Linked DNA regions of Homo sapiens: all the other regions are linked to region 3. Evidence: fine-mapped expression QTL. A gene starts in region 3. Each other region holds a variant in brackets. All regions are shown on one strand. Distances are from middle to middle. Region 1 has its middle 11 kb from the start of LINC02212. Region 2 overlaps ATPSCKMT (ATP synthase c subunit lysine N-methyltransferase). Region 3 holds the start of ATPSCKMT (ATP synthase c subunit lysine N-methyltransferase).

What was found.
Region 1: its variant is fine-mapped to the expression of ATPSCKMT in fibroblasts (GTEx, PIP above 0.99).
Region 2: its variant is fine-mapped to the expression of ATPSCKMT in skeletal muscle (GTEx, PIP above 0.99).

The regions. Positions count from the first base shown.
Region 1 is chr5:10,490,689-10,493,450 of GRCh38, reverse strand. No RefSeq gene overlaps it. Among named protein-coding and RNA genes, the nearest start is that of LINC02212, 11 kb to the left of the region's middle. The variant G/A (reference allele first, on the strand shown) is at 1,324.
Region 2 is chr5:10,225,411-10,228,172 of GRCh38, reverse strand. ATPSCKMT (ATP synthase c subunit lysine N-methyltransferase) reads left to right here. Exons shown (of 5, transcript NM_199133.4): 5 at 526-2,666. The coding sequence ends at 732. Among named protein-coding and RNA genes, the nearest start is that of ATPSCKMT, 23 kb to the left of the region's middle. The variant C/T (reference allele first, on the strand shown) is at 1,446.
Region 3 is chr5:10,248,351-10,251,112 of GRCh38, reverse strand. ATPSCKMT (ATP synthase c subunit lysine N-methyltransferase) reads left to right here and starts at 1,225. Exons shown (of 5, transcript NM_199133.4): 1 at 1,225-1,255. The coding sequence starts at 1,240. CCT5 (chaperonin containing TCP1 subunit 5) reads right to left here and starts at 833. Exons shown (of 11, transcript NM_012073.5): 1 at 668-833. The coding sequence starts at 772. RefSeq lists silencers at 236-375, 446-515, 1,266-1,325, 1,336-1,455.

The DNA of each region.
Region 1 (2,762 bases), 240 kb before region 3:
GAAGGCACATCAGAGGAGAGGCCATGTGAGGACACCATGGGAAGGCGGCCACCTGCAAGCCAAGGAGAGGGGCCTCAGGAGAAACCAGCCCTGCTGACACCCTGAGCTCCTTGCAATTCCAGCCTCCTAGACTGTGAGAAAATACACTTGTGTTATTTAAGCCCCCCAGTCTGTGGTTCTTTGCTGTGGCAGCCCTAAGAATCTAATACACATGCCAACCTGTCTAGGCACAGATGGCCCATCTTCAGGGAAAGGATGCAGGGGGATCTGCAGGCCTGCCGGGGCTGAACCAGGAAGTTGTGCCCTCAGCAGTGGAGGCAGCCTCTCCCAACCCCAAGCCTCCAGCCCCTCCCCTCGTGACATGCATGTTCTGAGTTCAGTCTGTTTCCAAGCTCCTTCCCGTGCCTGTGGAGTCAATGTCACCCCCAGTCTCAGGGTATCCTTGCACTGATACGCTCCACTACACCCTCACACCCACCCCGTGGCTTCCTGAACTGCACCCCCAAGTGAACCACTCTGCATCTGGCTTCTCCATCAACCACGTGCCCTGGAGTCCCTCTGAGCTGTCCATGTGGGCAGCCTCCTTTTGAAGCCTGGAGTGGGTGAGTGTTGAGCAAAAGGTGATGGCAGGGGCTAGAGCTCATTTCATTCCTGAGTAAGGGAAGCTCTAAGATTCCTTCTGTACCATAAGTGAGTGCTGCCCTGCCTGGGAGGGTGCACACCCTGCCCTGAGACTACTGCCTCAGAGCATGGGCAGCTGGTCAACCTAGGCATTGCCCATGCCTCCCACATGGGTGGGGGGCAGCCCCACCGCCCCTCTGTTCATCTTCCATTGACCTGTGGAGTCTCAGAGATCTGTCTTGATTTTTTTTAGACAGTCTTGCTCTGTCACCCTGGAGTACAGCGGTGCAATCTCTGCTCATTGCAACCTCTTCCTCCCAGGTTCAAGTGATTATCGTGCGCCAGCCTTCCAATTAGCTGGGATCACAAGCATGCACCACCATGCCCTGCTAATTTTTGTATTTTTAGTAGAGACAGGGTTTCGCCATGTTGGCCAGGGTGGTCTCAAACTCCTAACCTCAAGTGATCCACCTGCCTCGGCCTCCCAAAGTGCTGGGATTGCAGGTGTGAGCCACCACACCCAACCTGTCTTGATTTAATAGTCATTCAAGGTGCTCATTTCTTGACTGAATGACTACAAGAGCAGATATAAATGAACACATGCAATCAGTCTTGCCCTGGGTCTGAAGTAGGATTCTCAGCACCAGCGACATTTGCACTGGATCATTCTCTGCGGTGGCACTAGCCTCTGCCCTGCAGGAC[G/A]TTTAGCAGTACCCCTGGACCCCACCCACTAGACGCCAGCAACAGTTCCCTGCCCCAGTTGTGACAACCAAAAATGTCCTCGGACATTACTCCAAGCACCAAGGTTGGGAACCGCTGTTCTCAAGGTTTCCAAATGCATCTCACGCCATAGGTCTATGCACAGAATAAATGAATCATTCACTGTTGACCAATGAAGGCTTTGTTTGGAGACAGGTGTTATAACAGCAGGAAGAAAACTCCCCAAAGGAAAAGTGTGCTATCAGCTGAAGCATCTCCCAAGTCCAGCTCTGCACCCCCACGTGCATCCCCACACGAACGTGTTGCCAGGAATCAACCGAACCCCTGTTTCTCTCGCAGAAAATTGGTGGGAGCAATCCTCGCTTGCGTGTCAGGATGCCTGTCCAGGTGAAGCCAGCATGAGTCTCTCCAGATTCTAAGGCAGTGATGGGAAAGTGAAGGAAGCAGAAATGGCCAAGGGCCATCCTCTGTCAGTAATTCACTCTGTCAGCCCTCCCTAAGCCGGGTGGTGGGTGTTATGCATCAGGACGCCGGGCTCTGGTGGGGTAATGAGAGGGACTCATAAGTGGCCAAGCTGTGACTCAAACCTGGCAGGACTCCCACTGGCTTCACTCTGCCCTCTTAAATTCTACAATTAGAGCTCCCCAGGAGAGAGCAACCCATTGACTTAAATGTTCACTCACCTGTAAACAGGTGACATGAGATTTTCTCCCATTCGTGGGTTTCCTGATGTCAGGATGGAGCACAGAGCAGGGGCCGTCGGGCACCTATAGGCTGAAGGGAACCCTGGGTAGAGGATAGTGTACGTTTGTTTCATGATGTTGCCAGGAGCTGGCCCTTTGCTGTAAACCAGGTCCTGTTTTGAGCGTGCTGGGAAGTTCAGAAGCAGAGTTCCATAGACACTTCTGAGATGCACAGGCACCTCTCCTGCCTAATGTGGCCAGGAAAAATTGCCCTGATAAAGCCAATGACATCATAGATTAGAACCTGAGGAACCCGCAGCCTAGTAGTTCCCGATCTTGCTGCCTATTAACATCACGGGGACGCCTTTCAGAGCTCCCCAGGTGATGTTAATGGCAGCAAAATCAAGAACCACTGTGAATAGGCAGCAATCGATGTCCAGGCCACTCCCCACCAACTAAATCAGGGTCTCCAGGATGGGCTCATGCCTCCACGGTTCCTGGTTCCCCAGGTGCAACTGCGACCTCCCTCAGTGATCCAGTGTGGGCTTCTCACACTTTAATGCACATCTGAACGAATCGGGGCTCTTGTGAAAATTTGAATTCTGGCTCAAGAGGCTGGGATGAGCCTGAGATTCTGCTAGGAGCTAGGAAAAGTGTGATCCAGAGCTAGGAAAAGTGTGATCTTGGATGCTTGTCATCTGGGAGCTTGTTAGAGGTGCAGGATCTCAGGCCCCACCC
Region 2 (2,762 bases), 23 kb after region 3:
CAGAGATGTTAAAAATGTGCAAAAATGTGGCTGGGCGCAGTGGCTCACGCCTGTCATCCCAGCACTTTGGGAGGCCGAGGTGGGCAGATTGCTTGAGCCCAGGAGTTTGAGACCAGCCTGGGCAACATAACAAGACCCCTCTCTCTTAAAAAATGGTGGAAAAATAATGTCTTAAATATATGAGACTAGGTATATTGAAGTGTTGAAGTGCGTTATTTAAAACTGCTTCTTATTAAAATTACTGCCACATCCTGATTTTATTTAGAAAACTATAAATCTATGATAGACATCTGCTAAAAATGGCATATTTTATAATTAATACTAGAAGGTGTTCTTACAACTGCTGTCAGTGTATCTTCTGTATTTCAATGGATTGTTTGTTTATGTGTTTGTGTCCCAGAGTGCTCTTTTTAACAAGTAGTAATTTTTGCTCAGGTATTTTCAGGGACTCTTAAAAACAGGAAATTTTGGGATCATTTCCTCTGACTCACTGCTCACTAAAATAATAGCTGTTACTCTCCACAGATGCTGCAGTTGGAGAAGAAACTTGAACGTGAACTTGAGGATGATGCACGAGTTATTGCTTGCCGGTTCCCTTTCCCACATTGGACTCCAGACCACGTCACGGGGGAGGGGATAGACACAGTGTGGGCATATGATGCAAGCACTTTTAGAGGCCGTGAAAAGAGGCCCTGTACATCGATGCATTTCCAGCTGCCCATTCAAGCATAAACTTGACTGGGAGTGTTTTTCTGAAATATTGTAGTCTTCCCTGATCTTGTAGAGACTTACAGCTGTGTCCTTAGCAAAGGAGCATAATTGTCTTTGGTTTGGAATGAGAAATTACTATTACTTTCCTTAACTGTTGGAGAAAACAAACGAAGAAAAACAGGTAGATTTAAAATCTGCTTTTGATGCTATTTTCTTAAAAATTGTACTTACTGCCTTTCCATGCACCTGGATGCATGAAAAGATGAATAAGTGATGGTCATGGTTATGGGTAGGAAAATAAGATGCCAATAGCTCTTCACATTATAAACAATATGGCTTAATGCCTCGATAAGGAGAAATGATTTTTAAAGACAGTATATATTACCAACTGTTTGTAGTATCCTATAACTTTGTTCATACTTAAGTTGTATCTCTTTCCTTTTTGTACTTCATGGCAAAATTAATTTTCTAAAGGATTCAGAGAGGCGTTTATATTTTATAACATTTATTAGAAATAATTTGTTCCACCACTAGATTACTGTATTTTATGGAATCTAAGCTGTATATGTGTACATTTGTATACATGTATGTGTAAATGTAAGCCTGACGTGGGTTCAGATTCCAGTTTTGTCATCAGCAAGAGGCCTCGGACCCATGACTTACTGCCTCTGAGCCTTGGCTTTCTGTGTATCTCTGCCACTGGGATAATGGTACACATAACAGTGGAGTGGGGA[C/T]CAATTTCTAAAACTCATGGCACCTAGTCTTTGGTCCATAAATGGTGTTTGTTATTTTAGACACTGAGAAAAATCTTATTCACAGAAGTTGCAGATTATTTCTGCTAGTCACTTTTTTATTTCTTGAGAGCTGCCACTCATTTAATATTTCTCATTTATGAGAAGAGACTTGACTGATTTAGATAAAAGACGAATTAAGGAAAACCTTTGAACGTGAGTAGACAAGCTTCATATATCTGTAAAGTGAATATTGAATGGTAGCTTGAGTCATTCGTACTTATCACAGAAAAGAATTGAACTCCCAGTCATACACCTGTAACTGAAATACCAAACTGTCTTAATGGAGATGTAATGAAGTAAGATGGTCACATCTTTAACTAAACTTATAAAAATTGGTCAGTTTGATCATTTTCATTTAAATGAGAAACATCTGGGGACACATTCATTCATTCAACAAATATGTATTCAGTATCTACTGTAGAAGAAGCTCTGAGATTCTGCGGTAAATAGACATGCAAAGCCCCTGGCCTCATGGAATTCCTATTCTGGAAAGGAGAGACAAACAAATAAGCAAGGGAATCTTAGTGTGTGTGGAGTTCTCTGAAGTAAACAGTGTGATGGTGTAGAGAGCACCTGTGTGAGTCTGAGATGAGGGGATGTGATGTTGTGGACTTCAGCCAGGTTTTTGGCAGCTAGTGTCTGTCCCTTTTTCAGTAGCTCCAGTCTTCTTATGAAGAATGAGTTCTTTCTGTGGTGTGTGACTTTAGTGGGAGGGCAGCTCTTGCTCTATGCCTCTCAGTTGCCTTCCACTGTAACCAGTCCTGTAACTGGTCTGGGCACACTCGGAGGGGGATCCATGGTAGCTCCTTGCCATGAAGATGTGGGTAGAGGAGGGTTCTGTGGGGCCTCGGAGGTGTTCAACATTTTCTAGAAGTGTTCCTGGTGGGTTTATAGAGGCATTGATATGGTTTGGCTGTGTCCCTACCCAAATCTCATCTTGAATTCCCACGTGTTGTGGGAAGGACCTGGTGGGAGGTGATTGAATTATGGGGGCAGGTCTTTCCTGTGCTGTTCTCATGATAGTGAGTAAGTTTAATGAGATCTGATGGTTATTTTAGGGGGGAGTTTTCCTGCACAAGCTCTTTTTGCCTACTACCATTCACGTAAGATATTCCAGCCACATGGAACTGTAAGTCCAATTAAAGCTCTTTCTTTTGTAAATCGCCCAGCCTCAGGTATGTCTTTATCAGCAGCGTGAAAACAGACTAATACAGTAAATTGGTATGTTGCTGAAAAGATGCCCGAAAATGTGGAAGC
Region 3 (2,762 bases):
TACTTCTACCGTTTCCTCTCCCTAGAATGCTACCTCTCACCCCGATCTAAAGCTGTCCTCCAGCACCACGCTTATGTGCACCCTCTCCGTAGCTGTCCTTCTCACTGCACACCACCTTGTATTACGGTTATGTGCGTCCGTTTTTCACTCTTCGCTATTTTTCCTCAAGGGTGGGCAAAAAAGCACTCAGAAATGAAATACCCTGTTAAGTGACCACACCTTTACGAGTGACAAAGAAAACGGAAGGGCCGTTGCGGGTGGACCAGCGAAAGGTTAAGCAGCAGCGCCTTAACCGACAGGTGACAGAGCATCTCCCCGGCGCCCTCCCACTGGAGCGCAGTCCCACGCGGCCGTCAGGCTGGAGGAGCCGGGCGGGGAGGCGGTCCCGCTTTGCTCCCGCGGGCGACCGGACTGAGCGGCCCCACCCAGCTCCGAAGGGCGCTGGCGGCCCAGCCTGGCTGGCCCCCACATTCCGAGCCCAGGATTAGGCGCCGGCGTCTCCCGAGCTCAGTAAGCGGGCTGAGCGGCCGGAGACCGCAGGGAGACGGAGATTCTCGACCTTTCCGGGGAGCACATGGCAGAGCCGCTCCTCAACTCGCGCAGGCGCAGAGCCACGGCCTCGGCCACCTCCCCTTAGCCCACCGCGAGCAGGTCCCTGTGCCATTACCTTGAGGGCCTCAAGTCCCATAAGACGGGACTTGCGGTCCTGATCCTTGATGATGAGGAAAGGGCGCCCATATTCATCGAAGGCGAGGGTCCCCATGGACGCCATGGTGCAACAACCGGAATTACTTCCCCCCAACCGGCGGAGACCGCTACGGAAGCGAGAATGCACTTCCCTTTCTCGGGAGGGCCCAAAAGCTTGCGCACGCGCAGCACAAGACGCGCGGGACTTATGTTTCTACTGAGACTAATTTCACGCCAGACAGTATCTTCTGGAATCGGCGGCCTTCGGGAACTTCTATTATCCAGGAAGCCGGGGAGGGGGAGGTTTGAAGACACTTAGTGGAAATCTTAGGACACACAAGTCAAGAGCAGATTGAATTTGTCATTTTTTAAAACGTTACCACTGATAGTTTCTCGATAGTGGGTCCCAAGGAGGAATTCATTGACTTAAAGCACTATTTCTTTATTTCTTCGCACTCCGGCTCCGAGAAGATGGTAGGACCCATTTCCGGTTTTTTTTTTTTTTTTTTTTTTTTTTTTTTTTTTTTTAAAAACGCTGTTGGAAATCTCGCGATGGAGGGAGGAGGAGGTGAGGCTGGAGCGGCTTGGCGGGTTCCTGGGGGCATGAGAAGGGGTGCGGGCGGGCCGGGGGCTCGCGGTCAGCTGAGGTCTCCACTGTCGAGGCGGTGACCGGGTGCGGGCGGCTGCTCTGGCCTCCAGCCTGGCCTTCGGTGACCAGAGCTCCTGGTCGCCGCGCGGTGCCCGCGCCGGTTCTGGCGATCCTTGTCGGCGGGCGCGTTTCCCCAGAGACTGTTCTAGGCTACTTAGTGCAAGTGACTCAGCCTTTGGCACGATCTTAAGGAATAGGGATAGTGGAGGCACACTGATGGATTGGAATCGCAGTTCTGCCGCTCTTCCTAGCTGTGGCTTTGAGGAAATCCCTTAACTTCTTTGTCCCTCGGGTTCCCTGTCTGCAAAGTGACGGTGGTAACAGTAGTGCCTACTCACAGGGCTGCTGTGAGATTCAAGGAGAACGGTGCCTGGCAAGCTGAACACAGTGTTGGTAAATAAATTAACATTTTGCACAAATGGTTCAGTAACTTGCCACTGGTATACAGCTAGTAAGAAACAGTTACACAGCCTGATGCAATGGGTCCCACACTCTTTTTTTTTTTTTTTTTTTTTGAGACAAGACTGTAGCCCGGGCTGGAGTGCAGTGGCGCGGTCTCGGCTCACTGCAGCCTCCGCCTCCCGGGTTCCAGTGATTCTCGTGCCTCAGCCTCCCAGGCAGCTGGGACTACAGGCACAGAACCACCACGCTCGCTAATTTTTGTATTTTTAGTAGAGACGGTGTTAACGCCGTAGTGGCCAGGCTGGTCTCGAACGGCTGACCTCAAGTGATGTACCCGTCTAGGTCTCCCCAAGTGTTGGGCCTGAGCCACCGCGGTGCCCGGCAGGTCTCACTCTTAAGCCCTGTATTATGCTGCCTCAGAAAGATCTTGGCAACCGCAGCTGTCCTCTAAATCTCTTATGCTGCCTTCCTCCCCGCCCTCCAAGATCATGACTTAATATTTGATAGGTTTAGATTTATTTGTTGAGGGTTTCCATCCTTGCTTCTCCCCTACTGCCATGGGCAGGGACTTAACTAATAAAGTTGTATTATTCCCAGACTTTATTAGGCACTCAATAAGTGCTGAAATGAATACATGCACTATAACATTTGACCCTGTCCTGAAACTCAAGAACAGACTTGGCGACTGTGTTCCCATCTACTCTGGGGCTGAGGCAGGAGGATGGGTGGAGCCCAGGAGTTCAGTTTACAGTGCGCTATAATCGCGCCACTGCACTCCATCCTGGGCGACAGAGCGAGATTCTGTCTCTAAAAACAGGGAGGACTGACTGTCATGGGATGGTTGGTGATCTGTTAACTCTTCATGCTTGGCATACTTACGCGCTAGACCTTGAAGTGTTCTTCAAGGACATTTTAGATTTTGGAGTCAGGTCTTATTTCACGTTAGCTTTGCCAATTCAGTGTTTCCTCATTAAAAATGGTGACTTCTGCAATTCATTTGGCTCCTTCGATTGTTGTGAAAAAT